Homo sapiens: one gene and its partners. The protein of the gene in region 1 interacts with the protein of each later gene in a pairwise test. Each region holds a gene or a part of one and is shown in the gene's direction. Other genes may lie near its edges. The genes, in order: ATXN1, TLE5, SDCBP, RHOXF2, GPATCH8, CAMK1 and CENPV.

What was found.
Region 2: the proteins of ATXN1 (region 1) and TLE5 interact in binary tests that used the Homo sapiens proteins (3 or more experiments, as listed by UniProt).
Region 3: the proteins of ATXN1 (region 1) and SDCBP interact in binary tests that used the Homo sapiens proteins (3 or more experiments, as listed by UniProt).
Region 4: the proteins of ATXN1 (region 1) and RHOXF2 interact in binary tests that used the Homo sapiens proteins (3 or more experiments, as listed by UniProt).
Region 5: the proteins of ATXN1 (region 1) and GPATCH8 interact in binary tests that used the Homo sapiens proteins (3 or more experiments, as listed by UniProt).
Region 6: the proteins of ATXN1 (region 1) and CAMK1 interact in binary tests that used the Homo sapiens proteins (3 or more experiments, as listed by UniProt).
Region 7: the proteins of ATXN1 (region 1) and CENPV interact in binary tests that used the Homo sapiens proteins (3 or more experiments, as listed by UniProt).

The regions. Positions count from the first base shown.
Region 1 is NC_000006.12:16,306,798-16,310,965, reverse strand, and holds part of ATXN1 (ataxin-1), read left to right. Parts: intron 1-4,106; coding exon 4,107-4,168. UniProt on the Homo sapiens protein: Chromatin-binding factor that repress Notch signaling in the absence of Notch intracellular domain by acting as a CBF1 corepressor. Binds to the HEY promoter and might assist, along with NCOR2, RBPJ-mediated repression. Binds RNA in vitro.
Region 2 is NC_000019.10:3,059,554-3,064,306, reverse strand, and holds the start of TLE5 (TLE family member 5), read left to right. Parts: upstream 1-1,811; 5' UTR 1,812-2,106; coding exon 2,107-2,133; intron 2,134-3,049; coding exon 3,050-3,147; intron 3,148-4,753. UniProt on the Homo sapiens protein: Transcriptional corepressor. Acts as a dominant repressor towards other family members. Inhibits NF-kappa-B-regulated gene expression. May be required for the initiation and maintenance of the differentiated state.
Region 3 is NC_000008.11:58,562,593-58,566,760, forward strand, and holds part of SDCBP (syntenin-1), read left to right. Parts: intron 1-2,426; coding exon of another isoform or gene 2,427-2,441; coding exon 2,442-2,492; intron 2,493-4,168. UniProt on the Homo sapiens protein: Multifunctional adapter protein involved in diverse array of functions including trafficking of transmembrane proteins, neuro and immunomodulation, exosome biogenesis, and tumorigenesis.
Region 4 is NC_000023.11:120,161,182-120,164,108, forward strand, and holds part of RHOXF2 (rhox homeobox family member 2), read left to right. Parts: intron 1-2,276; coding exon 2,277-2,606; 3' UTR 2,607-2,927. UniProt on the Homo sapiens protein: Transcription factor maybe involved in reproductive processes. Modulates expression of target genes encoding proteins involved in processes relevant to spermatogenesis.
Region 5 is NC_000017.11:44,496,617-44,500,784, reverse strand, and holds part of GPATCH8 (G patch domain-containing protein 8), read left to right. Parts: intron 1-4,168.
Region 6 is NC_000003.12:9,756,524-9,760,292, reverse strand, and holds the end of CAMK1 (calcium/calmodulin-dependent protein kinase type 1), read left to right. Parts: intron 1-542; coding exon 543-621; intron 622-717; coding exon 718-805; intron 806-1,006; coding exon of another isoform or gene 1,007-1,106; intron 1,107-2,446; coding exon 2,447-2,564; coding exon of another isoform or gene 2,565-2,671; coding exon 2,672-2,754; coding exon of another isoform or gene 2,755-2,776; 3' UTR 2,777-2,946; downstream 2,947-3,769. Other genes in the region: OGG1 (N-glycosylase/DNA lyase), read right to left, coding at 3,477-3,526, 3,672-3,769. UniProt on the Homo sapiens protein: Calcium/calmodulin-dependent protein kinase that operates in the calcium-triggered CaMKK-CaMK1 signaling cascade and, upon calcium influx, regulates transcription activators activity, cell cycle, hormone production, cell differentiation, actin filament organization and neurite outgrowth.
Region 7 is NC_000017.11:16,343,333-16,347,500, reverse strand, and holds part of CENPV (centromere protein V), read left to right. Parts: intron 1-2,789; coding exon 2,790-2,904; intron 2,905-4,168. UniProt on the Homo sapiens protein: Required for distribution of pericentromeric heterochromatin in interphase nuclei and for centromere formation and organization, chromosome alignment and cytokinesis.

The DNA.
Region 1 (4,168 bases):
TAAAGTCTGTCATTCTAGAAATGTATCAGAACTAGATCAATCAGAGTTAACAAAGGAAACAAAGAAGATGAAGTAGAAAAGCAACAATCTGTGGAAATCTACTACTTTTAAAGTTTTTTTGGTACTTCAATTATGCATGTGTGTTTTTGTGTGTCTGAATGTGTATAAAATCCAATGGAGGCCTGACACGGTGGCTCACGCCTGTAATCCCAGCACTTTGGGAGACTGAGGCGGGTGGATCATGAGGTCAGGATATCGAGACCATCCTGGCCAACATGGTGAAGCCCCCACTCTACTAAAAATACAAAAAGTAGCTGGGCGTGGTGGTGGTGGTGCATACCTGTAGTCCCAGCTACTTGGGAGTCTGAGGCAGGAGACTCGCTTGAACCCGGGAGGCGGAGATTGCAGTGAGCCGAGATCGCGCCACTGCACTCCAGCCTGGGCGACAGAGCAAGACTCCCTCTCACAAAAAGAAAAAAAGAATCCAACAATATTTTAAATATTGTTACATATAGCCAATATTCATTCAGATTCACCATGTATCTACCATTTTCATTCCTCTTCATTCCTCCCTGTACAAACTTCAATCTAGATTTGTTTTTTCTCTACCTAAAGAATACCTTTTAGTATTTTCTATAATGCAGATCTGTTGATGGTGAATTCTTTTAATTACTGTTTGTCTGAACATGTCTCTATTTTGCCTTCATTCTGGAAGGATCTTTTTGCTCCATATAGAATTCGCCATTGACAATTCTTTTTCTTTAGCACTGTAAAGATATTCCATTGTCTCCATTGTCTACTGGCTTCCATTATTTTTGTTGAGATGTAAACTGTGAGTTCCATTGTTGCTTATTTGGAGATAATATGTATTTTGTTCTAGAGGCTTTTTTTTTTTAATGGAGTTTCTCTATTGTCGCCCAGTCTAGAGTGTGATGGAATGATCTTGGCTCACTGCAACGATCTTGGCTCACTGCAACGATCTTGGCTCACTGCAACCTCCGCCTCCCGGGTTCAAGTGATTCTCCTGCCTCAGCCCCCCGAGTAGCTGGGATTACAGGTTCCTGCCACCATGCCCAGCTAATTTTTGCATTTTTAGTAGAGATGGGGTTTCACCATGTTGGCCAGACTGGTCTCAAACTCCTGACCTCAGGTAATCCACCCACCTCGGCCTCCCAAAGTGCTGGGATTACAGGCAGGAGCCACCACACCCAGCCTGTTCTAGAGGCTTTTAACGATATTTTTTCCTGTTTAGTTTACAAGATGTCTTTGATTTATAGCAGTTTAATTCTCATCTGCCTCAGTGAGGATTTCTTTTTGTTTATTTTTCCTGTTTGGGGCTAGGCCTTCTTGAAACTGTCTTATTATCCTTCTTCAGTTTGGGAAAATTCTTAGCCATTACCTCCTCAAGTATTAACTTCTGCCCTATTATCTCCCTCTCTTCCTCCTCCTAGGATTCAAATTATGTGTCTGTTAGCCCCTCTCAATGTATCCTATGTGTCTCTTACCCTCTCCTCCATATTGACCATCTTTTTGTCTCTATGTTCACTCTGTGGAGTCTCTTCTAAAGCTCTAATTAGAGAATCCAGTTCCTGAATTCTTTCTTAATCCATGTCTATTCAACTGGAAAGCTCATTGCATTCTTGATTTCAGTGGTGTATATTTTAATTCTACAATTCTCATAGACCTTTTTTAATTAATTAATTATTATTATTATTATTATTTATTTTTTTTTTTTTTAGAGACAGAGTCTCACTCTGTTGTCCAGGCTGGAGTGCAGTCTTGTGATCATAGCTCACTGCAACCTCTAACTCCTGGGCTCAAGATCCTCCTGCCTCAGCCTCCTGAGTAGTTGGGACTACAGGCACGCATCACCACACTAGGCTATTTTTTTTTAAATTTCTGTAGAAACGGGGTCTCATTTTGTTGCCCAGACTGGTCTGAAACTCCTGGCCTCAAGTGATCCTCCCTGTCTCAGCCTCCCAAAGTACTGAGATTACAGGCATGAGCCACCATGCCTGGCTTCATGGATCTTTTAAAAACAGATTCTAGTTTCCTATCAAAATTCTCAAGCTGTCTTTAATCTTCTTAATTATTGTAAGCATAGTCTTTGTAAAGTCTATATGTATGACTCTATATGAGAAGCCCTGGTGCATCCTTTTTTAAGATCTGATATTTTGCTAGTGCTTATACAAGCTATCTGGTCTCCTCATGACCACCACCCCCCTTTTTTAAATTGAATGCTTTTATTTGCAAAATTGTGAAAGTAATTCAAGACCTTAATCCAGTTTTAGGGACTCAGATGAGTCAATCTGAGCTTCAGACCTTGAAAGGCCTGTTGGCTTGTGGTTCACTGTCTCCTCTAAGGGACAGTGCTTTGGGGTCACAACTCAAAAGAATGGGGCTCACCAGAGAACACCCTCCCTTGGTGTATCCTGAACTCCATTACCTGTTCCCTATGCTCTTAACACTATCAAAAGCCCACTTGGTTTCCCAACTGCTCCACTTTGGAATGTTCAAGTGCCTTCAGGAGAAAACAGGCCCCCAACACCAGCTTCACCTCTCTGGGCCATCATCTTTTCCTGATCCAACCCAGGAAGTGTGTGTGTGTGTGTGTGTGTGTGTGTGTGTGTGTGTGTGTGTGTGACGGAGTTTCACTCTGTCGCCCAGGCTGGAGTGAAGTGGCATGATCTCGGTTCACTGCAGCCTCCGCCTCCCGGGTTCAAGCGATTCTCTTGCCTCAGCCTCCTGAGTAGCTGGGATTATAGGCGCCTGCCACCACACCTGGCTAATTTTTGTATTTTTAGTAGGGACAGGGTTTCACCATGCTGGCCAGGCTGGTCTCAGAGTAAAGTGGCACGATCTTGGCTCACTGCAACCTTCGTCCCCCGGACTCAAACGATTCTCCTGCCTCAGCCTCCTGAGTAGCTGGGATTATAGGGGCCCACCACCACACCTGGCTAAGTTTTGTATTTTTAGTAGAGATGGGGTTTTGCCATGGTAGCCAGGCTGGTCTCAAACTCCTGACCTCAGGTGATCCACGCGCCTTGGCCTCCCAAAGTGCTGGGATTACAGGCATGAGCCACCGCGCCTGGCCTTTTTACTATCTTATTTGCTGTCCAGTACTATAAGAAAAAAAGTTTAAACATTTTGTCCAGAGTTTTTAAATTTATTTGTTTGCTTATATTTTTGTTCAGAGTTTTTAGTTGTCCTCAGAAGGAGGGTTGGTCCAAATTACCTAGTCTACTACATCTAGAAAGGACATTGGAAATTGACTTTTTTTTTTTTTTTTTGAGACGGAGTCTCACTCTGTGGCCCAGGCTGGATCGCCCAGTGGCACGATCTCGGCTCGCTGCAACATCTGCCTCCTGGGTTCAAGTGATTCTAGTGTTTCAGCCTCCCAAGTAGCTGGGATTACAGGTGCCCGCCACCACGCATGGCTAATTTTTTTTTTTTATTTTTAGTGGAGACGGGGTTTCCCCATGTTGGCCAGGCTGGTCTTGAACTCCTGACCTCAAATGATCCACCCACCTTGGTGTCCCAAAGTGCTGGGATTACAGGCATGAGCCACTGTGCCCAGCCACCAAGCATCCTTTTAGGGGCTGGGGACTCAGTGATAAACACACTGTGCCTGCTTCTTGGAACTCACAGTCTCACTCTGATCCATGTTTAGTCCTGTCCTGTATGATAATAGCAGTTGTCCATTGAGCTCATAAAATCTAAGACCGCGCTGGGCTTGTGAGCCACCTGCAGAGCCTAGCTTGGTGCTGAAAGCTAAGTGGGTGCTCTGTCATTACTGGGGTTCGATTGACTGGTTCTAACAGAGACCAGCTATAGAGCTAACACTTGATGGAATATTTTGAATATTGATGACCTTTTCACTGGCTTCTGCCTATGGCAAGTAGAGGTACAACCCAAAGAGAAGAGCCTCATTTATAGTGTGTGGCTGGGGGAGAGGGAGGTTTGCAAACTGAGTCATTTTCCCCCATTCAGCCTGTGTGTGTCTGTGTGAGTTCATACCTGTGTGTGTGCATAAAATCAAACAAGAATAAAATGTTTTCATTTGTTCCCTTCCTTCTTCCTCTCTCTGTCTCTCCCTGTTTCCACAGGTCAGCGTTGAAGTTTTGGTAGAGTATCCTTTTTTTGTGTTTGGACAGGGCTGGTCATCCTG
Region 2 (4,753 bases), on another chromosome or scaffold:
CCTCTTTGGGACCTGTTCTCTGCGTGGCAGAGAGAGGGATCCTTTAATAACCGCCACCAGGTCCCATCCCTCCTCTTCCCACGGCTCTCCAGGATTCCCACCTCACTCAGAGCAAAAGCCCAAGTCCAGGGCCAGGCGCAGTGGCTCACACCTGTAATCCCTGCACTCTGGGAGGTGGAGGCGGGAGGATCACCTGATGTCAGGATTTCAAGACCAGTCTGGCCAATATGGTGAAACCTGTCTCTACTAAATATACAAAAATTAGCCAGGCGTGGTGATGCGCACCTGTAATCCCAGCTACTCAGGAGGCAGAGGCAGGAGAATCACTTGAATCCGGGTGGCAGAGGCTGCAGTCAGCCAACATCACATCACTGCACTCCAGCCTGGGCAACAGAGTGAGACTCCATCTCAAAAACAAACAAACAGCTGATCACGGTGGCTCACGCCTGTAATCCCAGCACTTTGGGAGGCCGAGGCGGGCAGATCATCTGAGGTCGGGAGTTCAAGACCAGCCTGACCAACATGGAGAAACCCCGTCTCTACTAAAACTCCAAAATTAGCGGGGCGTGGTGGCACGTGCCTGTAATCCAGCTACTCGGGAGGCTGAGGCAGGAATCACTTGAACCCAGGATGCGGTGAGCTGAGATTGTGCCATTGTACTCCAGCCTGGGCAACAAGAGCGAAACTCCATCTCAAAAAACAAACCAACCAACCACCAGGTCCCGTCCCTCCTCCTCCCACAGCCTTCCAGGGCTCCTACCTCACTCAGAGCAAAATCCCAAGTCCTCCCCAAGACCCACAAGTCCTTGCTGGACTGGCCTGCTTCACCAGCTACAGAGTTAGCAGGGCCCAGTGCAAAAGAAAACTCAAAGGCCCCTTGTTCAAAAATGATTAGAAATCTCAAAATGCAGCAGTAAATATTAACCCAAGCACAAGCCCTGCTGTGGGGTGGGGGGGCCCTGGACAAAAGCACGAAGCCCCCGGCCCTGCCTCCCTCCGGCCTTCCTGACCTCCCCCCGGGCACTCTGCTGCCAGGCACAGTCCTGCCCCAGGGCCTTTGCACCTGTTGGTCCTGCCTCTGACTACCTCTGTACCCCATCCCCCTGTTCTCCCTCCTTCTTCAGGTCGCTTTAGGGGTGGAGGAAGCCGTCTCTGATCCTCCCTCCCACCTCTTTAACTTTGCACCTTCCTACCCTGCCATTCTCCCGGCTGGTTTTTCTGCAGAACTGTCCCCACCATCTGACCTGCCAGGAATTCAGCTTGTGAATTTGTCTCTGTCTGTCTCCAGGCACCACCACCAGGGCAGGGACCCACCCCCGCCCCGCCCCACCCCAGGGCCCTGGAGCAGCGGGGCCTGGCACACAGTAGGCGTTCTATAAATGTGTCACAAGAATGGCTTCCCTCAGGAAGGCGGCATTACCGCTGCCTTTCTGCAGAAAAGGAAACTAAGGCTCAGCAAGAACCACCGCCCAGCCAGAGCCAAGGTCACAGAGCACGTCCGTGGCACGCGTCCAGGTCGTGCCACAGCAGGGCCGGCGGCTTCGACGCGGGCAGCCGGGTCCCTTTTCTTTGACAGATGGGGAAACCGAGGCCCGGCCGGCTGCCGGGTAGGAGAGGGTGGCGGGGGCCGCTGCCCGGGGCGGGGGCGGGCCGGGCCCAAGGTCACCGCGGCGGGCGGGCCACGGGGAGGCGGGCCGGCGTGGGGATCCGCAGGCCTCCCCGGGCGCGCGCGTCCCCCCCCTCGGCGGCGCGCACGGGGCACGGGCGGCGGCAGGTGGAGCCGAAGCCTCCGCAGCAGCCGAGCCGCGGCCACTGCCGGCGTCGCCGCCATTAGACAATAGCGGTGGGGCCGGGGAGCGGGGAGGCGGGCGGCGGGGAGGGGCGGGGAGGGGCGCCGGGCGCGCAGGAAGCGGGGCCCGGGGCGCGCCGGGGCCGGGCGCGCGGGGAGGGGGCGCAGGAAGCGGGCGAGGCCGGGCGCGGGAGGCGGCGGCGGCCCCGGGAGCTGCCGATCGGCGCCGGGACAAAGGCGCGGCCGCCCGGCGCCCCCAGCAGCCCGAGCCGGGGCGCACAGCCGGGGCGCAGCCCGCGCCCCCCGCCGCGATTGACATGATGTTTCCACAAAGCAGGCATTCGGTAAGCGGGGCCCGTCCGGCCGGCGCCCCCACCCCGGATCCGGGCCCTACGCCCCCGACCCCCGGCTCCCGGCCCCGCGCCCCCCAACCCCCAGGCCCGGTGCCTCCGGCCCGGCGCCCCCCCCAACTCCCCGGCCCTGTCTTCCCTCTCCAGCTCCCAGCCCGGCGCGACCCCCCTCCCCTCCTGCCGCCGGCCCCCGGACACCCCCCCTCCAGTTCCCGATCCACCCCAGCTTCCGGGCCCCGAGCCCCCCCGCCGCAGCTCCCGGCTTGGCGCCCCCCCCCCCCAACCCGCCGGGACAGTCAGGGCCTCGGACGGCCTTGGCCTCGGGCCTGGGGCGCTCCGGAAGCCCCGCGAGGCACCTCTAGCCCGGGGATCCTTTGGGGGCCTGTGGTGGGGGGGGTGATCCGAGGCGCACCCCTCCCGGAAGAGCGTGTCCCCGAGGAAGGGCGCTGGGAATCTGGGGTTGGGCCCCCCCGGAAGATTTCGAGCACCGAGAGAGAGACCCCTCCCCCAAGAGGACTTTGCAGGGAGGAATCGCTGCCCCCCAACTTGGGGAGGGGGCTCCCTAGGGCGCGTTTCTACCCCCCTCGGATGTGCACTCCCTCCCGGCGCTTTGGAGGGCGGTAGAGGGCGCACCCTGCCCCCCATCTAGGGCGGGCCTTAAAACGCACCCCCACTGCCTGGGGGTGGCGGGGGACGGGGCGGCTCCGGGCGCACCCACCCGCTCGGCTTCCCCCGGGAGAGGCGGGGGGCAGGAAGCGCGGGTGGGGTCGCGCCAGGGGCCGTAAACACGGGCCCAGGAAGTGGGGCAGGAGGGGGGGCGCCGCAGCTGCGCGGCCGCTCCCTCCTAGCCGGCCCTTGAGGGGGGTCCAGCCCACGCCTGGGCCTGACCCGGGCCGCCCCATCCCTACAGGGCTCCTCGCACCTACCCCAGCAACTCAAATTCACCACCTCGGACTCCTGCGACCGCATCAAAGACGAATTTCAGCTACTGCAAGCTCAGTACCACAGGTGAGCTGGGGGACTGGGGGTCCCTGCGTCCCGAGAATGTGAGTCCCCCCATTTCTTCTGCGCAGATGGCAAGGCTGAGGCCTGGAGATTGGGAAAATAATATATGCTAGACTCTGACCTAATCACTTGACAAATACTGAATTCATTTATTTTAAACAGCCCCATTTTGTAGAGGAGAAAACCGAGGCACAAAAATAGTTAAATAATTTGCCCAAAGATTCAGCTGTGTGGCTTCAGAGCCCCTCCCTCCTCCCCAATACCCCCAAGTCCCCCATTGGATAAAAGACCTTCCAACAATTGGAGTTACGGCACGGACTCGCCATCCCTCAACCCCCAAAACAGAAACATTCTGCAGCCTGGTCATCTCTCTCTTTGCCCAGTTTTGGAGAAAGGGTTCCCAGCACCCGTCAGATTCTCCAAGGTGCTGCTTCTTTCAGAAATCTGGCGTTTCTGAAGAGCTTGCCACGCTGCGGTATCTAAGGGGAAGGAACTATTTAGTCCTCTTACACTTAAAGAAACTTAAGCCCAGGCCAGGCGTGGTGGCTCATGCCTGTAATCCCAGCACTTTGGGAGGCCGAGGAAGGTGGATCACTTGAGGTCAGGAGTTCGAGACCAGCCTGGCCAACATGGTGAAACCCCGTCTCTACCAAAAATACATAGTTAGCTGGGTGTGGTGGCGGGCGCCTGTAATCCCAGCTACTCGGGTGGCTGAGGCAGGAAACTTGCTTGAACCCGTGAGGCGGAGGTTGCAGTGAGCAGAGATGGAGCCACTGCTCTCCAGCCTGGGTAACAGGGAGACTCTGTCTCAAAAAAAAAAAAAAAAAAAAAAAAGAAAGAAAAAAAGAAACTTAAGCCCAGAGATGTTATGATGTTATTTCCTCGGGGGTGTCCATAGCATTGAGGAAGTGGCAAGGCTGAGGTTTGCACCAGGTCTCTCTCCTGGTTTAAGGATATAGGTTCTCGCCTGCCCTGCTCTGGAGGGGCACGCCGGGCCTGGGAATCTGGAGAAAGTCAGGCTATGCTCAAACCCCCGTTTGGCCTTGGGGCCCTCTCTAAACTGAAGCGTGCCCACCCCAGAAGTGTTCCTGGAAGGATCCTGGATTTCCTCCAAGTAGAAAGGGGAATCTCGATTTTGTTGTTGCTGCTGCAAATATCCCACCTTTTTGGGTACTCCCTGTGTGCTCAAGACCGTTCGTGCCTCCTCGTGCTTCATCCTTCCTGTCGTCCGACTGTCGTACCCATTCTCAAGCTGGGCAAACTGAGACACTGACAGTCGAAGGTGCTGGAGTCAGCTTTCCATGCAGGCCCCAGAAGCTTTTGTGCGGGTTCCTCGATATGAAGGGTTGGATACCGCCTGGTGAGCCCCGGGGCTGACCTGATTCCACAGGGAAGGGATCAGATGGCGGTCACAGTGCTGTGTGACCTCTGCTAAGCCGGAAGCCCTCTCTGAGCTTTGGGGTCTCCATCCGCTGGGCCTGGGCTTCCTGCTGTCCAACGAGGGACCCTACCATATCAGAGGCACACACCGGATGTTCGAGGCGTAACAGCCCCTGGGTGGCCAGACCATCCTATTTTTCAAGAAAGGCCAGAAATGCAGGCTTTGGAG
Region 3 (4,168 bases), on another chromosome or scaffold:
TTTCAAAAAATGGTGCTGAAATAACTGGGTTTCCACATGGATAATAATGAATATGGATCTATACCACACACCGTGTACAAAATTAACATAAAATAGATCAAAGATATAAATGCAGGAATTAAAGACATAACATTTTTTGAAGAAAACATAAGGGTAAGTCTTCATAACCTTGAGTTGGGCAGTAGTTTCTTAGATGTTATATCTAAAGCATAAGCAACCAAGAAGAAATATAGATTCAAATTTGTCAGAATTAAAAACCTCATATTGCAAAATGCACTGTGAGAAAAAATGAAAAGACAATCTACAGAATAAGAAAAGTATTTGTAAATCATATATGATAGTGGTCTATGATATGGTCTGAATGTTTGTGACTGTGTCCCTCCATTCATATGTTGAATCCTGTAATCATCAAGGGGATGGTATTAGAGTTACCATATGACCCAGCAGTTGCATGCTTAGCTATATTCCAAGAGAATTAAAGATGCATTTATTAAAAAAGTATATAAACTTACATATTATTTGCTAACAATGCAAATGCTCATTGGCATTTTTAACAGCATTATTTATAATAGCCAAAAGTGCAAATAACCCAAATGTCATCAGCTGATGACAGCATAAATATAATGTGGTATACATACAATGGAATATTATTCTGCTATGAAAATGAATGAAATACTGATACATGCTCCAACACAGATGAACCTTGAACATATGCTATGTGAAAGAAGCCAGATGCAGAAGGCCACATATTCTAAGATTCTAGATTAAGTATCCAGAGCAGGTAAAAACAGAGGCGGGAAAGTGTATGTTGCCTGGAGCTGGAAGGAGGGTAGAATGGGGAGGCATGAGTTTTCTTTTGGGGAGGATGGAAATATTCAAAGATAGGTAGTGGAGATGATTGTAGAAGTCTGTGAATATACTAAAAACCATTGCATTATATACTTTGAAAGGCTGAATTTTAGAGTGTGTGAATTAAATTTAAAAAAAAAACTATCTCATACTGTCCAACTAGGAGACAGAGACCATATAGTGATTTTAACAGTGGAGGTTTAATACACAGAATTACTAGTTATAACATGATTGAAGAAATAGAAATTGACTTGTAAGAAGTAAAGACAACTTTTAAGAATACTGTAAGAGCAGACTTAATAAGTAGCCACTAACTCTAGGGCTGTTCCCATACTGGGGCTGAGATTCAGGTCTGGTTGAAGAGGGGACAGATGTCACTGGCAGATGCTGAAGTTGCCGGATACCATGCTTCTGGAACTTATTCTCCCTCTGGCATTCTGAACCTTGGAATTTGCTGCAGAAGCCACGTGAAGGGGTTGAGAAAGCTGCTCAGGGAGATTCCTTGGTGGTGGCATTCTGCTGCAGAGTTACTCAATAGAGTGCTGGGGTGAGCTTCTGCATGCTTGTGAAACTACTCCTGGCAGGAGTCTGGCTAGAGTAGTACGTTGGAACCATGAAGAGAAAAGCTCTTCCTCCTACAGTGTACCTCCAGTTGCCTCTACTGACAAGGCTTAACATCATGCCAGCTGGTAACAGAGCAATGTTGAAAGAGCTCAGCTCCATTTTGGGAGAGAAAGCAATAAGAAGTGGATTTGGAAATGGGAGGTAATAAATTGATACCTGAATCAAGAATCTTACGTTAAACCACATACCAGTTTAGCATATATTCTGTTTTATTGGGTTGAGTGAAAGTATCAGGTATTCATCTCAAAACAGCTAAATAAAATTTAAAATATGCATTCATATAATACATTTAGAGAATTGTGTTTTAAATTATTACAAAAAGCAATTTATAACTAAAAAACATACTTCTACTTAATACAGAAGTATTTTAAATGAAAAGTAAAAATTTCCCTCTTATTCCTCACTCCTTTACCATCTGTCTTCTGAAGAAAAATCTGTTAGCAGTTGATATAGTTTCTTCTGTATACATATATGTGTGTATATATTTTTCTTAGTAATAGAGGTTCATGTATTGATACTGCATATGATCTGCTTTTAGGCTTTTATTGTTAGAAGGAAATGTAGCTGTGTAATGCCCAAGGGCATTGTACTAAGGGTAGTTTCCTAGTCCTGGCTAAGTTGCAAGTACTTGTGTAAGTTAGGAGTAAGTCACATAACTATTCTATTTGATTTTCTAAATTTGTAAAATGAAGGGACTTTTACTTGAATTTTAAAAATCGGTGATGGATATAGTTCAATAATACTATTAGGGGAAGGAGAGGTAGTTTGGTAATTCTTAAGTATCAGCTAACTTTTAGTATGGCCTATATATTCTTATTTTTTAATATGTTTTGCAATTTAAATGTTTTTTATTGAGTTAAATAGTTCTACTTGTTTATGTGTCTGTGGTTAGCTGTGTATACTATTTCAATTTCTATGACATTAGAGTAATAAAACTTTCTTTTTTTCTTTAGAAGAATCCTGCAAAAATGTCTCTCTATCCATCTCTCGAAGACTTGAAGGTAGACAAAGTAATTCAGGTATGATAGTTTAAATACTTTTGTCAAAACAAACACAGTAACATGCATTCTACTTATAGGTGAAATAAAGCAAGATAGCTAAATAGCAGATATATTTGTTCATTTTTACACTTCATAAACCTTTTTTTAGTTTTATTAATTGCAGACTGAAAAGTTTACAGAAAAATTAGCAATTTTTTTTTTCATTTCACTGTGAATTAATAGGCATGAGATTTTTTTAATTCGACTTACACTTTTTACATTTCTGGTTAAAATTTAATTATATGTAACATATTTGAGTTGACAAAATATACTCCAATTTTGTAGATATTCATAGTTTTGTATAAAATTGGTATATTTTTCTTTTGGATCTTTAGGTATGACCACTCTTTAATTCTATGTCTCTTAACTGAAGTTAAAATTACAGAAATAGTGGCGTACATGCTGCTTTTAGAAGAGCAGTCATGTAAGAGCACAGGGAAAGTGTAGTGATTTCTTTCCTTTGAGAGATGAGCAGCAGACATTTCACTTGTTCATTCTCTAAATGACTGTGTAGAGATTGCAGTATTTCTAATTGCATTGAGTTGAAAATTTTTATACTCCTTTGTATAAGTATTAGCTTTGAAGACAAATGCTTCTGCTTAAGAACAAAGTGAGGAATTGGGACCAATTCTGGCTAATTGGGAAATTTTTGGTAATTATTTTAATTGGGGGTAATTTGTAGTATATGATGAATTTGTTTACGGTTAGCTTTCAACTTGATCTCTTATCAATTTAGAATTTCTTCAGCCGTTGTTTATTGTTTTAATTTGACAAGATAAACGAAAACTCCTTACCCTGAAGATCATTTTATTGGGTCCCTGTCTTCAATTTACTAGAAAGTGAGATATTCAATTTACTTACTGATAATTGAATTATGAACAATTATTTTCTATCATAGATCCAGTATGGATATTAAAATGAGGTTTGTAAAATCTCTAAAATCTACAGTTCAGCTGCCAAGGCTTTGATGCCTCAAAGTTTCAAGTGGCCTATTCAGTCATCTTTTACATGTTCCTATCACTTCTTTAGTATTTTGTCAGTATTTTCTTCATGTGGTTTTTATTTCCACATAGTTCATCTAAACAAGCACTTTTCTTTTTAAAAGGCCTTTATCTGAAATATTTAGCTTTCCAGAATAACTGCTTAGCCATTAATATGACATCAATACATTAACTGATAAGGATTTTTAGATGGACCTGTAAGAATGACTAATCTGTTCTTTGTTTTCATCCTTTTTTTGTTAGCTTTTTATGGAATTGAATGTAAATTCACCATAGTCAGATATGAGCTGAGGCTTTTGGTTTTGAAAACAGCAGCAGCAGAAGAGTTGATATTGACAAATATTGGAATGAAAAATAAAGAGGGCTACAATCTGTATCATGCTGCCCTCTTTAAGCAGAAGTGAATTACATAGATATTTACATTAAAGAACGTTTTATGTTCAGAGCAGAAAGCAGCTGGGAGATAGAACAGTGAATAAGGAGTGGGAAACATGGTTCTTTTATTACCCCTGAATTTAAAAATATTCCTAATTTAGCCATTAAACTCTTTGGCTGTTTTTGTTTTGTTTTGTTTTGTTTTTTTGCATCATTTTCTAAGGTGGATGATACTCATGTTTGTTTTTATTCTTAAGATTCTCCTGAAACGGTATTATG
Region 4 (2,927 bases), on another chromosome or scaffold:
AGATAGCGAAAAGGCTTGCAACCTTTGCAAGTTTATCTAGAAACCAAAACAAACTACAAGATCAATTTTTCATAAATTTCCACCAACCTAAGGATGGAAGTGTTAGGCAAGAATTGTATACAGTCACACTCATGGCTTGGGGAAGCTGCCCCCATTCAACTTTTGAAGCTACCAAATGCATCAGTGAATATTTTCTTGATCAATTTCTAGCATTTAAGAGATTTTTTGTTTCTTCCAGTTTGTTGTACTAACAGGAAGAGATGTGTTTTGTGGAATGTGTTGATAGTGGGGGATGGCTGTCAGGTCAGGCTAGACTCTTACCTGTGGTAATTTGAAATACCTTTTTATTTATTTGCTCAGGCTGTGATAATAAATTTGTAGGTCAGTGGATCCAAAGGAGTATTTGCAAAAAAGGAAGAAAAGAAAGAAAAATCGGGATGACCTTAATAGCTTTTCTGCAGAGCTCATGTGTGTGAGTGCAGTGAGGGAACTATGCTGCGGTTCTGTCAATGGTGGCATGCAGAAAAGCTGCCTGACAAAACGGGGCACTGAGTGTTGGCATCCTGTTGCCCTCCATTTTCTCAGGCAGGCAATGCCAATTTGGGGGAGATGAAATATTGACGTTTTGGTGAATTGCCTTTCCCCTCCCTGGGTTTACATAGCATTCACTCAATGCAGTTCTGAAGGCAAAAGGACCACTCTCACTCAGCAAATAAGGAAAAAGGCATGATGTTCTCATCTATTGCCAAACATTTCAGCATGAATATCTCCAAAAATTTTTAATAGATGTTTCCCCCCTCTGTTTTGTAAAGATAGTAAGGGCTGGTTTATGAAACCGATACGGAGACTAGGGACCTAATGTTGTCCCATAGCACATTTGGCCCACTTTTGGCATTGCTTATGTTTATGAACCTTTGACCACAGGTACATTGGAATTGTCTCTAAACAAGCACTATTACGGTAGGCTTAAAATTTAGACTATGTATTCATGAGGGAGAAGGACTCCAAATAGTAAGATGGGAGAAGGAAATGGGGCATCAAACAGGGAGAAGAGTCCCTTTGTCCCATAAAATTTGCAGTTTGGGAACTTCCAGAAGGATCAAAATACAATGGAAATGTCATTAACTAGAAGCTTGGGGGATAGTGTTGTTTAATTGACAGGTTTTATTTTTTGGTCTTTTAACAATTGGCAGGTGTTTGGGGAGTAGTGTTTTTTGATACCTCCTCCACATTACTACTGAACGTGTTCAGAGTTGCCTATTTGGACACTCCCGCTTTGGGAATGCTGATGAGATTGGGATCTTCTGCTCGAGTAGTGAGGCTAGATGGCTGAAGGCGTCCCATGGAACTGGGCAACCAAGTCTCTGTCCCATATCCCAGGACTATAGGGAGAACAAAGTGAGCTGACCTTGTCCTTAGCCCAGGAAGATTTGGAGGGAGGGATGAGTTGGAGCGTGCAGAATTAGCAATGCTTCCTTTCTCTCAAACTCTCAACTGGGCAAAGCTTTTTGAGAATTTTTGTGAATTTGGACAACATTTGTGTCCTCCTTCCACAAAGCTTCAAGCTGAAGTGTGAAGAGTGTCCAGGGCTTCAGATACCCTCATTTCCCAGCAAGACAATCCACAAACTCCCTGGGCCCCCTATAACGAGACTTGCCTTGCAATATACCATCTTTTTAATTCTCAAGGAGTTTCAGAAGATGAATGACCCCTTAGAATTTCTTGAAGGAAAGAAAACTTGTTTTAAAATACAATGTACTCTTACCGATTTTTTACTTTACACTGAAGATGGGCTTTTCAAAACGGGGGCCTCATCTTCTTGGTATGACTTTAAAAGGCACCCCCGCCTTTTTTTCCAAGCTCAGCTTCCCCCACGACCAGGGTGACAGTGGCCTAGTAAGTAGGAGTTGGTGGGCAGCTGGGTAGCTGATGGTCAAGTATCTGCAAGCAGACATGCCACACATAGCAATACCAGCAGGGATCGAGTCCCACTCATCAGCTACACCTGCACCCAAGAGTGGAAAAAGTAATATTACAGATAAAAGGAGAGAGACAAAGAAATAAGCCAAGCCAGAGCGTACGTAGCACATACTTGGAGCTCACTAGGGGAAAGGTGTGGTGGTCACCTTTCTAAGATATTTTAGTAGTAAGGAAGTAGCTTGTCTTGATACACCCGAAAAGGTTAAGGACATAGAGAGTTGCTTGTTGTGTTTTTTTCCATGATGAAATTAAATGCTCAGTATACTAAACCTGTTTCTTTTTTCCTCTGATTGAAGATTTGGTTTGAGAATAGAAGAGCCAAATGGAGGAGACATCAGAGGGCATTAATGGCAAGAAACATGCTGCCCTTCATGGCAGTGGGCCAGCCTGTCATGGTAACCGCAGCTGAGGCCATAACGGCACCCTTGTTCATCAGCGGGATGAGAGATGATTACTTCTGGGACCACAGCCATTCCAGCAGCCTGTGTTTCCCCATGCCACCCTTTCCTCCTCCGTCCTTGCCCCTTCCACTCATGCTTCTTCCACCTATGCCACCCGCTGGCCAGGCTGAATTTGGCCCATTCCCTTTTGTTATCGTGCCTTCTTTCACATTCCCCAATGTCTAAGGGATAGCCTCTGTGCCACTTTTTGCCAGAGTGTCTTTGAGCCAGATTCATATTTTGCATAGCACCCCATCAAAAGTAGTTCATCAAATGTCTATTAAACGTTTTAAAGAAAAGTACATCATTGACCCATTTTTAGGGCACTTGTAAAAATGTTTCTATAAATATGTGAAGGGTATGTACATTTGTTTTGTGTGTCACATGGGGTCAGTAAGTTCTCAATAAAAATTGTTAAGAAATGCCATTCAAACCGAATGTCACGGACTCTCGTCTCATGCAGTAATCTTGAGTCACCATCTGGGGGCTGTGCATGTCACAGAATTT
Region 5 (4,168 bases), on another chromosome or scaffold:
TGAAAACAAGTCATAGTAGGTTTCCAAACACAGTGGATAGATCTTGTTGCTTTCAACAGATCTTGTAGCACTGGAAATTGTTCATCTTCTCTGGTAAGTTCGAGATGACTTATTTTCTTTGCCTTTAATTTAGCAGGATGATTTAAAGTTGTAGAACTTCACTCTTTACCGGTTTATCAAGTGCAAATTTTGGAGAGTTTGATGTCTCTTGAAATTATTATGGAGTGAGGGAGTTGGGCTATTAAAATTTGTGAATACCTAAAGTTGCGAAGGTATTTTGTATATATAGTGAAAAGTTATAGTTAACAGTGGTATGCCACTTGAAGCACTCATGTATATAGAGATTAATAATTATCAGGGACCTAACTTTTTTTAATTGGTAACTTTATTATAATAACAAACAGGTCCTATTCCACAGGCTTTATGTGTCTTATCTCATAGTCTTCACTATAACCCTACGAGGTAGGTACTGTTATTACTGCCGTTTTCAGCTGAGGCACAGAGAATTAAGTAACTTAGCCAATTACATACATCTGTTAAATGGCAGAGCCTAAATTCATACTGGCTTTTGGATTCTTGTACTTGTCCTCATGACCATTCTGTCTGCTGCTGACAATTATACATTTTATGTAGCTGTAATTGGGTCATCAAATGTGGAGGATAGACTTATAGGTGACAAAGAATAAGGGAGCTTTTAGAAAGGTGATACAGTTCCAGTTTTTATTTTGTTTGGTTTTGTCCAGATCTGTCTCTTTCTGGTCTCCCAACGGCTTCTAGGGAGGCTTTCAACAATGATAAATTACATTGTGTCATAGAGGATATATTGTTACCTGTTTTAGTTTAGACATTCTTTTGTCTAGCCTTTTAAGTGTTTTTTTTTTTTTTAATCTTTGGAAATCTTTGTAATCTAAGCTGATGTATTTATTTTTACAAATGTTTTAAGAGTTTTAACTACTCCTTTAAGAATCTGGCCTCAATTTCTGAATGAGATATTACTTCTGCCAGCATTTACCAGATTAAGATATATTTGTTCCCAAATTGAAGTGTTACACAAACTAATGGAAAATGTATAACTTAAGATAATCAACACTTTGGATTACAGGTTCATTAAAGAAAGTTTTGTTTGTACAGTGATGTACAGCTAGCTATACGGTGCCATTAAGAAACAGTGCTTAGCATTTTATGGTTGCGCAGCTATTATTGGTGATGCAGCTGAATGCTGGTGAGGAAATGTTCTTTAGTATATGTACCTGCAGAGGACTGATGATTCGTGTTCCGAGTGTTCTCTGCATTTTATTTATTTATTTATTTTTTTGAGATGGAGTTTCGCTCTTGTTGCCCACCTGGAGTGCAATGGCACCATCTTGGCTCACCTCAACCTCCGCCTCCCGGGTTCAAGTGATTCTCCTGCCTCAGCCTCCCGAGTAGCTGGGATTTCAGGCATGTCCCACCATGTCCAGCTAATTTTTTTGTATTTTTTAGTAGAGACGGGGTTTCACCCTGTTGGTCAGGCTGGTCTCAAACTCCCGACCTCAGGTGATCCACCCACCTCGGTCTCCCAAAGTGCTGGGATTACAGGCTTGAGCCACCGCGCCTGGCCCTCTGCATTTTATTTCTAATGAAAAGGAACTACAGTAATAGATCAGTGAGTGATAAGTTGATAAGAGAAACAAGACATGCTATGTTAAAGGTCGTAATAAAAATACAGAAATTGCCCAAGAACTTTCTGTAATCTATGTAAGTAATCATAATGGTAAATAGCAATAAGCTAGTCATGTATTACATTTATGCAGTATGTTTGTAGGAATCCTCTTTGTGTTTCCATATGTAACCAGTATGTGACCCTTAGGAAATTCTTAGTTGAGACTATTAAGTGAAGAGGTTCATAGTTTTAAGATATTTAAGTCACAGAAGCATATTAGTGTATTTTCTGTATGTAATATAGTTGGCATTGTAATTCAGGTATGCCAGATATGACACATGGACAAGTGTTTTAAATCGTTTTTCCTATGTCTCGCTCCCGTAATCTGGAAGAAATGCCACAAGCTGTGAAAATTAATGTCAGTTTGGCTTGGGATACTGAAATTTATACAAAATCATTACTCTTCCCTGTCTCATAGTATGATAAGTGAAAAGGATTAGAATCAGGGCTGTACCAGTTTCAAAATACTGATGCTGAATTGACATGATTGTTAGCAAATGCAAAATGATATTGACATTGGTTAATACATTCTTAGGAGATCGAGAGTGACCAAAGTAAAGTCAGCATAAGAGAAGTTTCCCTGGAGGTGATTTGAAGGGTAAATGGTATATAATCACTTTTCAAATGTGGGACATATCAAGGACATCTCAACATCACAGAGAGAGACTTAAGTTGTAATTAGGAAAGATTGGGGTTGGGAAGAACTGTGATCAGAGGACTTCATGTGATGATGTATATTATTTGTTTTCAAAGTAGGCATGGGAGGCAGGAAGAAACAGATCTGGACAAATAGAGTATTATGCCGAGTATTATTTCAGGGCTCTTACAATACAGTCAAAATGATAGAAAAACAGGTACTCCTGTTGTACCTTTCCCTTTCTTCTATACATGTAACACAGTTCTCATTAGAGTACTGCAAAGGGATTCTTTCATCACAGTTTCTCATGTCTTTATGATAAATTGTATAACCAAAGCTAAAATTTGTGACTTAAAAATATTTCAAGATACATATGTAATAAGCTATCCTGATTGTGCTGCTTCATAATTGAGATACATTTCCATGTGATTTCTGTCTATCTGGGTACATGATAAAAATTTTTAAAAGGACAGTCTGTTTTTCTTTTCTTTTTTTCTTTTTTTTTTGGAGACAGTGTCTGGCTCTTTTGTCCAGGCTAGAGTACAGTTGTGGGATCTTGGCTCATGCAGTCTCCACCTCCTGGGCTCAAGCAATCCTCCCGCTTCAGCCTCCCAAGTAGCTGGGACTACAGGAATGTACCACCATGACTGGCTAAGTTTTGTACTTTTTTTAGAGACGGGGTTTCAACTTGTTGCCCAGGCTGGTCTTGAACTCCTGGGCTCAAGCGATCCTCCCACCTCAGCCCCCCAAAGTGCTGGGATTACAGGCATGCACCACTGCACCCAGCTGACAGTCTGTTTTTTTGATGTGGTCAAGACTTTTTTAAATTTAATTTTTTTAAATAAAAAATTCGTTTTTGAGACAAGGTCTCACTCTGTCACTCAGGCTGGAGTGCAGTGACGCGATCATGGCTCCTGGCAGCCTTGACCTCCCAGCTTCAAGTGATCCTCCCACCTCAGCCTCCTGAGTACCTGGGGCTACAGGTGTGTCACCAAGCCCTGCTAATTTTTTTCATTTTTGTAGAGATGGGGTTTCTCCATGTTGCCCAGGCTGGTCTCAAACTCCTGAGCTCAAGCTATCCTCCCACCTCGGCCCCTCAAAGTGTTGAGATTACAGGCATGTGCCACTGTACCTGGCCAAGATTGCCATTTTCTGAAAGCGTAGCAGAAGTTCATGAGATCTTAATTATGAATCAGAAACCTATGTAAAGTTTTCATTTTTGCTCTTGTGACTTAGTTTCTAGTATTTTATTAATGAAAATGGTTTCTAGCTTGAAGTAGATAGATTCCAGTTCGTGAGTTCTATTAAAATTCCTTCCCTGAAACAACTTGGTACTTTTGCTTGTAAGTCTGGCATTAATTTTCTTTTCATATTAGCATTACCATTTAGCATTAAGTGAAAGCAGATTCATGGTAATTACCAAAGGAATTACAGATGACCACCACAAATACTGAAAGAAGTCATTGATTTGATATTGCAGTGAATACCAGAAGATGTTGTAATAATTTTCCACTTATAAAAAGTGAATTGTCCATTTAACTCTGGAGGTCTAAGCAAATGTGCTTAATGCATATCGTATTAGTCAATGCAAAAAGTTAAATATGCCCAGGCTGAAAGAAGGTGTATAATGTATGGTCGTTCTTATACCAAATGATTTCTTTGGAATTTAAACAAATATGTTTAGTATTTTATTCCTAATTTAGGAAGAAAAAGCAACTAAAGTTGTTCTGACATTGTACACAGATGAGTAGCACGTAACTGTTATTTAGTAAGCCCCATAGATAGTAAGGAATAAAAGTTGTTAGTGAGCAAAACAGGAGTATCCTGCC
Region 6 (3,769 bases), on another chromosome or scaffold:
TGCACTGAGATTAGTCAAGAACAACTTTTTTTTTTTTTTCTTTCTTTTTTGAGACGCAGTCTCGCTCTGTTGCCCAGGCTGGAGTGCAGTGGCACAATCTCGGCTCACTGCAACCTCTGTCTCCCGGGTTCGAGCAATTCTCTGCCTCAGCCTCCCAAGTAGCTGGGATTACAGGCGCCCACCACCATGCCCGGCTAATTTTTTTTGTATTTTTAGTAGAAACAAGGTTTCACCATCTTGGCCAGGCTGGTCTTGAACTCCTGACCTCGTGATCCACCTGCATTGGCCTCCCAAAGTGCTGGGATTACAGACATGAGCCACTGTGCCCGGCCATATGTTTTTCTTAAGAGAGAAAGGAAAGAGCTGGAAGGCACGGGGTGGGAGGGCCTGAAGAAGAGCATAGGTTGGGTGGGGTGGGGCATGGACTGATTTGGCCTCTTTGTCTTGATGCCAGGCCAGACCTGAGGGAGTGGGTATGCTCTTGGGGAGTACACAGGCAGTACCATGCTGTCATTATCTTTGCTTTTGTCTTGGGGGTTTAGCCAAAGATTTCATCCGGCACTTGATGGAGAAGGACCCAGAGAAAAGATTCACCTGTGAGCAGGCCTTGCAGCACCCATGGTGAGAATTCACACAACCTGTGAGCTGGGGCGGGATTTGGGGCCCTCAGGTCTGCTTCTGCCCTCATAGGCAACCCACCACATAACCCCATCCTAGGATTGCAGGAGATACAGCTCTAGATAAGAATATCCACCAGTCGGTGAGTGAGCAGATCAAGAAGAACTTTGCCAAGAGCAAGTGGAAGGTGAGTCCATATCCCTAGTTCTGGTCCCAGCCTCCCCAGGACTCCTCCCCATCCCTACCCAGGCTCAGCTTGCACAGCACCTGGCATCACACTGGGCACACAGTAACTGCTTAGGGATCCTTACTGAAGGACTTCATTCATTCACTCTTTCATTCAACAAACACTCCCAACACCTTCTCTATTCCAGAGAGGGTCCCTCACCTCCAAGTCTAGAGGAAGAAGTCTGTAATTCTTCAGGAGGCATCTGATCCAGCCTATGGGGTCCGAGAAAGGTCATAAAAGTGGTGATGACCTGACAGAGCTGTCAGTTAAGTAGGAATTAGTGAGGCATAGCGGAATAATGTCTATAGCCATTCCGGGAAGTGCAAGTGCTAAGCCTGGCCAGACTGGAGGGGCTGAGGGGACTGAGAGGCAGGAGCCCAATTTAGAGAAGCAGGTAAGGGGCCAGGCCTCTTAGGGCCTCATATGCCACAGAGGAGCACCAACTTGATCCTGAGGGCACTGAGGAGCCCCAGAAGAATCTTAGGCAAGTATTTGCTGCATAGAAAGGGCTCTCAGGGCCAGGCATGGTGGCTCACGCCTGTAATCCCAGCACTTTGGGAGGCCGAGGTGGTTGGATCACCTGAGGTCAGGAGTTCAAGACCATCCTGGCCAACATGGCAAAACCCTGTCTCTACTAAAAATAAAAGAATTAGCCACACATGGTGGTGCGTGCCTGTAATCCCAGCTACTTGGGAAGCTGAGGCAGGAGAATTACTTGAACCTCGGAGATGGGGGTTGCAGTGAGCTGAGATCGCGCCACTGCACTCCAGCCTGGGCAACAAAGTGAGACTCCACCTCAAAAAAAAAAGAAAGAGCTCTCAGGATGCAGAGAATGGCATGGAGTAAAGACTGGGTGACGCATTAGGAGGCTGTGGCAGAGATACAGGCAGGAGATGGTAAGGGTTTGGAACCACAGTAGCAGCAACAGGGGGCAGAGAACAGTGGTTGATCCAGGAGTCATTTAGGAGGTGAAACTGACAAGACATGACGATGCAATGGATGTTGGGGGAAAGAGATGTCAAGGGCTGGCCCAAGACTGTGGCTGGGAACAGAATGGATGGTGGTGGTACCATGACTGAGATGGTTATCACAGGGACAGAAACATGTTTTGGGGGGATGGTTTTAGTTTTAGACATGGTGAATTTGAGGGGTGTGTGGGACACCTAGGTGGAGATATTGAATAGAGACACACCTGAGCAAGTTACTTCAGCTTTCTGTGCCTCAGTTTCCTCCTTTGAAAATGATAATAGTACCTACCTCAAAGACTTTCATGAAGATTAAATGAATTACTACGTAAAGTGCTTAGAACAGTGCCTGACATACAGTGCTATAGTGTTTGCTATTACATATTAATATGAATTATAGTTATGTTTCTATTTATATATATAGATACACATACATCTAACATATGTGCGTGTGTGTGTGTAAATATATAATAAAGCCTTGTAGAGGTTTTTGGGGGGCTTTAGGGGAATTAATAAAATAACTCCTGAATGAAAATAACAGAACAATTGCAAGAATCCCACTGCGCCCCTGCCCCATGACTTGACTCTCTCAAAAGTCCTTTCTCCCCTCTCCCTTCAATGCCTTCAATGCCAGCAAGCCTTCAATGCCACGGCTGTGGTGCGGCACATGAGGAAACTGCAGCTGGGCACCAGCCAGGAGGGGCAGGGGCAGACGGCGAGCCATGGGGAGCTGCTGACACCAGTGGCTGGGGGTGAGGAGCGGGCTCTGCAGAAGGGCATGGGTGGTCCACAAAGGTGCACCCGGGCTGGAGTGGAGGGCCTGCCCCTGCGGCCACCTCTGTTCTGTCTTCCCATGCAGGGCCGGCAGCTGGCTGTTGCTGTCGAGACTGCTGCGTGGAGCCGGGCACAGAACTGTCCCCCACACTGCCCCACCAGCTCTAGGGCCCTGGACCTCGGGTCATGATCCTCTGCGTGGGAGGGCTTGGGGGCAGCCTGCTCCCCTTCCCTCCCTGAACCGGGAGTTTCTCTGCCCTGTCCCCTCCTCACCTGCTTCCCTACCACTCCTCACTGCATTTTCCATACAAATGTTTCTATTTTATTGTTCCTTCTTGTAATAAAGGGAAGATAAAACCATCCTTAGCGCTGTCTCCCTCAATATCCCCCACCCCATCTTGTTGTGCAAACTGACTGCTTGATTTGGGGGTGCCTGGCCTTTGAGGTAGTCACAGGGAGGCCCCTCCCCAACATGAGACTGGGTGGGGATGGGGAGAGAGAAGTGGGGAATGGAGGGGAAGGTGCTTGGGGAATTTCTTTGTCCAGGGTGCCCCATCTAGCCTTCCGGCCCTTTGGAACCCTTTCTGCGCTTTGCTGGTGGCTCCTGAGCATGGCGGGATTGGCGCAGGTCGGCACTGAACAGCACCTGTAGGAGGGTGGAGTCTGTGTGGGGAGGAGGGTACACTGGGGTCAGGGCTGGTGAGACTAGTGACAGTGTTGGGAGGTGGAAGAGTCCTTGGGGAACAGGGCCGAAGGCAATGAGAATCCACTGGGGTTGGGACAGGGGTGGCTGGAGAGTCCTTTAGGGCCACCTGGGGCGGTGGTGGAAGAGTCCACTGGGTCTGGGCTGGAGGAGAGGAAACCTAGGGAGGACACCTAGGTACACTCACCGCTTGGGCCCAGCCAGCATAAGGTCCCCACAGGCTCCGGAAAAAGTTTCCTAAATCAGAAGTGATGAGACTAAGTTATCTGACCCCTTCTGTGACCCATCAACAGAAGTAGGGTCTGAGGGAGAGGTGACTAAGAGAGAGAGAAGTTTCTACCATCCCAGCCCACTGCCAGCCCCTGCAGCCCACTTTCCTCACCCAGTTCCTTGTTGGTCTGGGGGCTCGGTCCCTTCGCCTGGGACGTGGTAGGGTGCCAGCTGTAGTCACGTTGGGCAATGTGCCACATATGGACATCC
Region 7 (4,168 bases), on another chromosome or scaffold:
GTTAAAGAATACAGATTTTTTAAAAAAGACTTTTAGCACATTATGGGTAATGTGGGGTTGGGCGGGGCTTTAATTCCATCCAGATAATGCTGGATGGCTTGGGACCACTTGGCAGTCCTTCGCTGCTTTTCTGTGCTGCAGTGGCTATGGAGTGAGCAAGGCTCCTCAGGGAGCTATTTCTATAGGAAGCACAATTCTGGACGGTATGGCTGGGGAAGCGTAAAGAGGGTTAACAAGGATAAGAAACCTCCACCCCTTCCCCTTCAGCTGTCTGATTTCTCTCCCTAAAGGTAAGCCACTGTTTCTTGGATCCCTCTTCAAAGATACATATGCATATAAAAGCACATACAGGCCAGGCACAGTAGCTCATGCCTGTAGTCCCAGCACTTTGGAAGGCCAAGGCAGGCAGATCACTTGAGCCCAGGAGTTCAACACCAGCCTGGACAACATAGCGAGACCCCCATGTCTACAAAAAATAAAAAATCGGCTAGGTGTGGTGTTGCATGCCTATAGTCCCAGGTACTCGGGAGGCTGAGGTGGGAGAATCACTTGATCCTGGGAGGTCAAGGCTGCAGTAAGCTGTCGTCATACCACTGCACTCCAGCCTGGATAACAGAGTGAGATCTTGTCTCAAAAAAACAAAACAAAACAAAACAAAAACACCACACATACCAGTATATAGCCTTAAAAAAAAAAAAAGAAATGGTAGCATACCACGTACGTTGTTTTATACCTTGCTTAACTTTTTTTTTGAGACAGTCTCACTCTGTTGCCCAGGCTGGAGTGCAGTGGTGTGATCTCGGCTCACTGTAACCTCCGCCTCCCAGGCTCAAGTGATTCTCCTGCTTCAGCCTCCTGAGTAGCTGGGACTACAGGTGCCCGCCACCACATCTGGCTAATTTTTACATTTTTAGTACAGACAGGGTTTCACCATGTTGGCCAGGCTGGTCTTGAACTCCTGACCTCAAGTGATCTGCCCACCTTGGCCTCCCAAAGTGCTGGGATTACAGGCGTGAGCCACTGCGCCTGGCCTATACCTTGCTTTACTTTGTAACTTTGGCAATTGTTCCATGTTAGTTTTGTAGAGCTGTCTCATTCTTCTCAAAAGTTGGAGAATATTTCATTTTATGAGTGTCCATAATGCCTAACCGGTCCTCTATTGAGGGACATTTTCAATTTTTCCAATCTTTAGCCTTCATAAACAGTGCTATAGTATCTATATACCTATGTCATTGAGACATTTGGAATATATCTGTATAATAAATTTCAAGAAATGGAATTGTGTGCTAAAGCATATGTACACTTTAAAATTTTGGTAGATGTTGCTAAATTGTACCAATTCCTGTTCCTGTGACTGATATATGTGAGCACATATTTCTCTACATACTTGTCAATACCATGTTAACGGCTTTGATTTTGCCCACCTGACAGTGAAATACATCTCATTGAAGTTCCTTTGGTGAGCATTTCATAGGCTAAAGAGTGATTTATTTTTCTTTCTATCTGAACTGTCCGTTCATGTCCTTTGTCCAGTCTCCCGTTTGTATTATCCATTAAGGAAATTAGCCTGTCTATGACGTCTGGCAAATATTTTTTTCCTGGTTTGTCCTTTGTGGATAAATTAAGCACAGCCATCAGTTTTCTTAAGACCTTGAGCCGTTCTGTTTGGGGACATGGAGAGCCAGTCCCTTGGGTGAACTGTCTCTCCACATAGGCCCTGGGAAGCAAGCACTTTCCCTCCCTGATGTGATGTATCAGGGAAGGCTCAAGGCTGAATTCTGTATGCCGTTGACCTAAGGGAAGCTGTGAGCTGTCACGCTCCAGACTGACATGTCTCTGGATAGTGTAGATGGGTCTCTGTCCTCAAGAAGGTCCCAGTCTCTTCTGGAGATAGGAAATGGCCTCTTAGTACAAAGAGCCCTACAGAAGAGCTCCTGCCATTAAGTTATTTCAAGATTTTTTTTTTTAATGGTGCGATCTCAGCCCACTGCAGCCTCTACTTCCCCAGGCTCAACTGATGCTCCTACCTCAGCCTCCCAGGTAGCTGGGACTACAGATGTGTGCCACTGCACCTGGCTAATTTTTATATTTTTTTGTAGAAACAGGGTTTTGCCATGTTGCCCAGGTTGGTCTTGAACTCCTGGGCTCAAGCAATCCGCCTGCCTCGGCCTCAAAGTGTTGGGATTACAGGCATGAGCCACCATGCCTGGCCAAAGGTGTTTTTTTTTTTTTTTTTTTTGAGACGGAGTCTCGCTCTGTTGCCCAGGCTGGAGTGCCGTGGCATGATCTCGGCTCACTGCAAGCTCGGCCTTCCAGGTTCATGCCATTCTCCTGCCTCAGCCTCCCGAGTAGCTGGGACTACAGGCGCCTGCCACCACACCCGGCTACAAAGGTGTATTTTTTAAGTGACATAAAAATAAATGTCTTTGGGGCCAGGCGCAGTGGCTCACACCTGTAATCCCAGCACTTTGGGAGGCCAAGGTGGGTGAATCATGAGGTCAGGAGTTCGAGACCAACCTGGCCAACATGGTGAAACCCTGTCTGTACTAAAAATACAAAAAATTAGCTGGGCATGGGGGCACGCGCCTATAATCCCAGCTACTTGGGAGGCTGAGGCAGGAAAATCTCTTGAACCCATGCAGGTGGAGGTTGCAGTGAGCCAAGATTGCGCCACTGCACTCCAGCCTGAGAGACAGTGGGAGACTCTGTCTCAATAAATAAATAAATAAATAAATTAAATAAATAAATCTCTTTGTAAAAAAGAATACCGTTTGTCTGTTTTCACCTAGGGAGCTGAGCACATAACGACTTACACGTTCAATACTCACAAAGCCCAGCATACCTTCTGTAAGAGATGTGGCGTTCAGAGCTTCTATACTCCACGATCAAACCCCGGAGGCTTCGGTGAGTAAAGGGGATGGACTGCAAGCTCAGGGGGACACAGAGAGGCCCATGGTGCTCTCATTTAAAGTCTTATTTGGACAGGTGGGATGCTGACTAGACCCTGTCACATGCGTATCTTAGAGGAACAGGGCTCCTCAGCAGAGCGCTTTCCACATGATAGAATGTGAGTCGGGCTCCGGTGAAACTTTTCTGAATCCCATATCTGAATGTGGTGAAGTTGGACTTGGAGCCCATCCAGGTTGTGATTCTTATTCACTGGTGCTGGTAGAGCTGGTGTTGCTGGGGATGGTGTTGAAGGGTAGGGAGGAGAGGGGTGAGGAGATGGGCTTGTGGGGCCAGGGGAGGCAGCTTTAATAATGACAGGGGTTAAGGGAGTGAAGGAGGCAAGATTGGGGAGCATTGATAATGGCATTTGAAAGCTTTTTGGTTGTTCAAAAATTAGGCAGGACTGGCTGGCTGCGGTGGCTCACACCTGTATCCCAGCACTTTGGGAGGCCAAGGTGGGAGGATTTCTTGAGCTCAGGAGTTTGAGACCAGCCTGGGAAACATAGCAAAACCGTATCTCTGTTCTTTTTAAAAAATAATAAACAAGCAGGGAACCCTCCAAGCCCCGCTTCAGGGCCTGCTTGGGTCTGGGGAGTAATAAAACTAACCCTCTGACAGTTGTTGAGAATCATACCAACTATAGTGTGAATTGAAGGGGAAAGCAGAGGTGGAAGATGTTCTGAGGACTCTTGTTGTGTCAGTGCAGCCTCCAGAGCTGCGAGAGCAGCTATGACTGTCAGTGTCTTTTGCCTTATGGTGGTGGGGAGCGGACAGGGGAGGTGGGGGAGGCAGGGCAGGGCAGGATGTCATCCTTACCGCTCCCCCATTGCTTCAGGGCCTCCTGTTCCTCATCTGTCACATGGAGACTCCTTCCTGTCTACCTTGCAGAACAGGAAAGAGTTGAAAAGTATGAAATCCTGTGCAAATGGGAAGACATTTAATTCTTAGAAAGTTATCTATCTGAGGCCAGGCATGGTGGCTCACCTGAGGTCGGGAGTTCGAGACCAGCCTAACCAACATGGAGAAACCCCATCTTTACTAAAAATGCAAAATTAGCCAGGCTTGGTGGCGCACGCCTGTATTCCCAGCTACTTGGGAGGCTGAGGCAGGAGAATCACTTGAACCCGTAAGGCAGAGGTTGCAGTGAGTCAAGATCACGCCATTGTACTCCAGCCTGGGCAACAAGAGCTAAACTCCATCTGAAAAAAAAGGAAAGAAA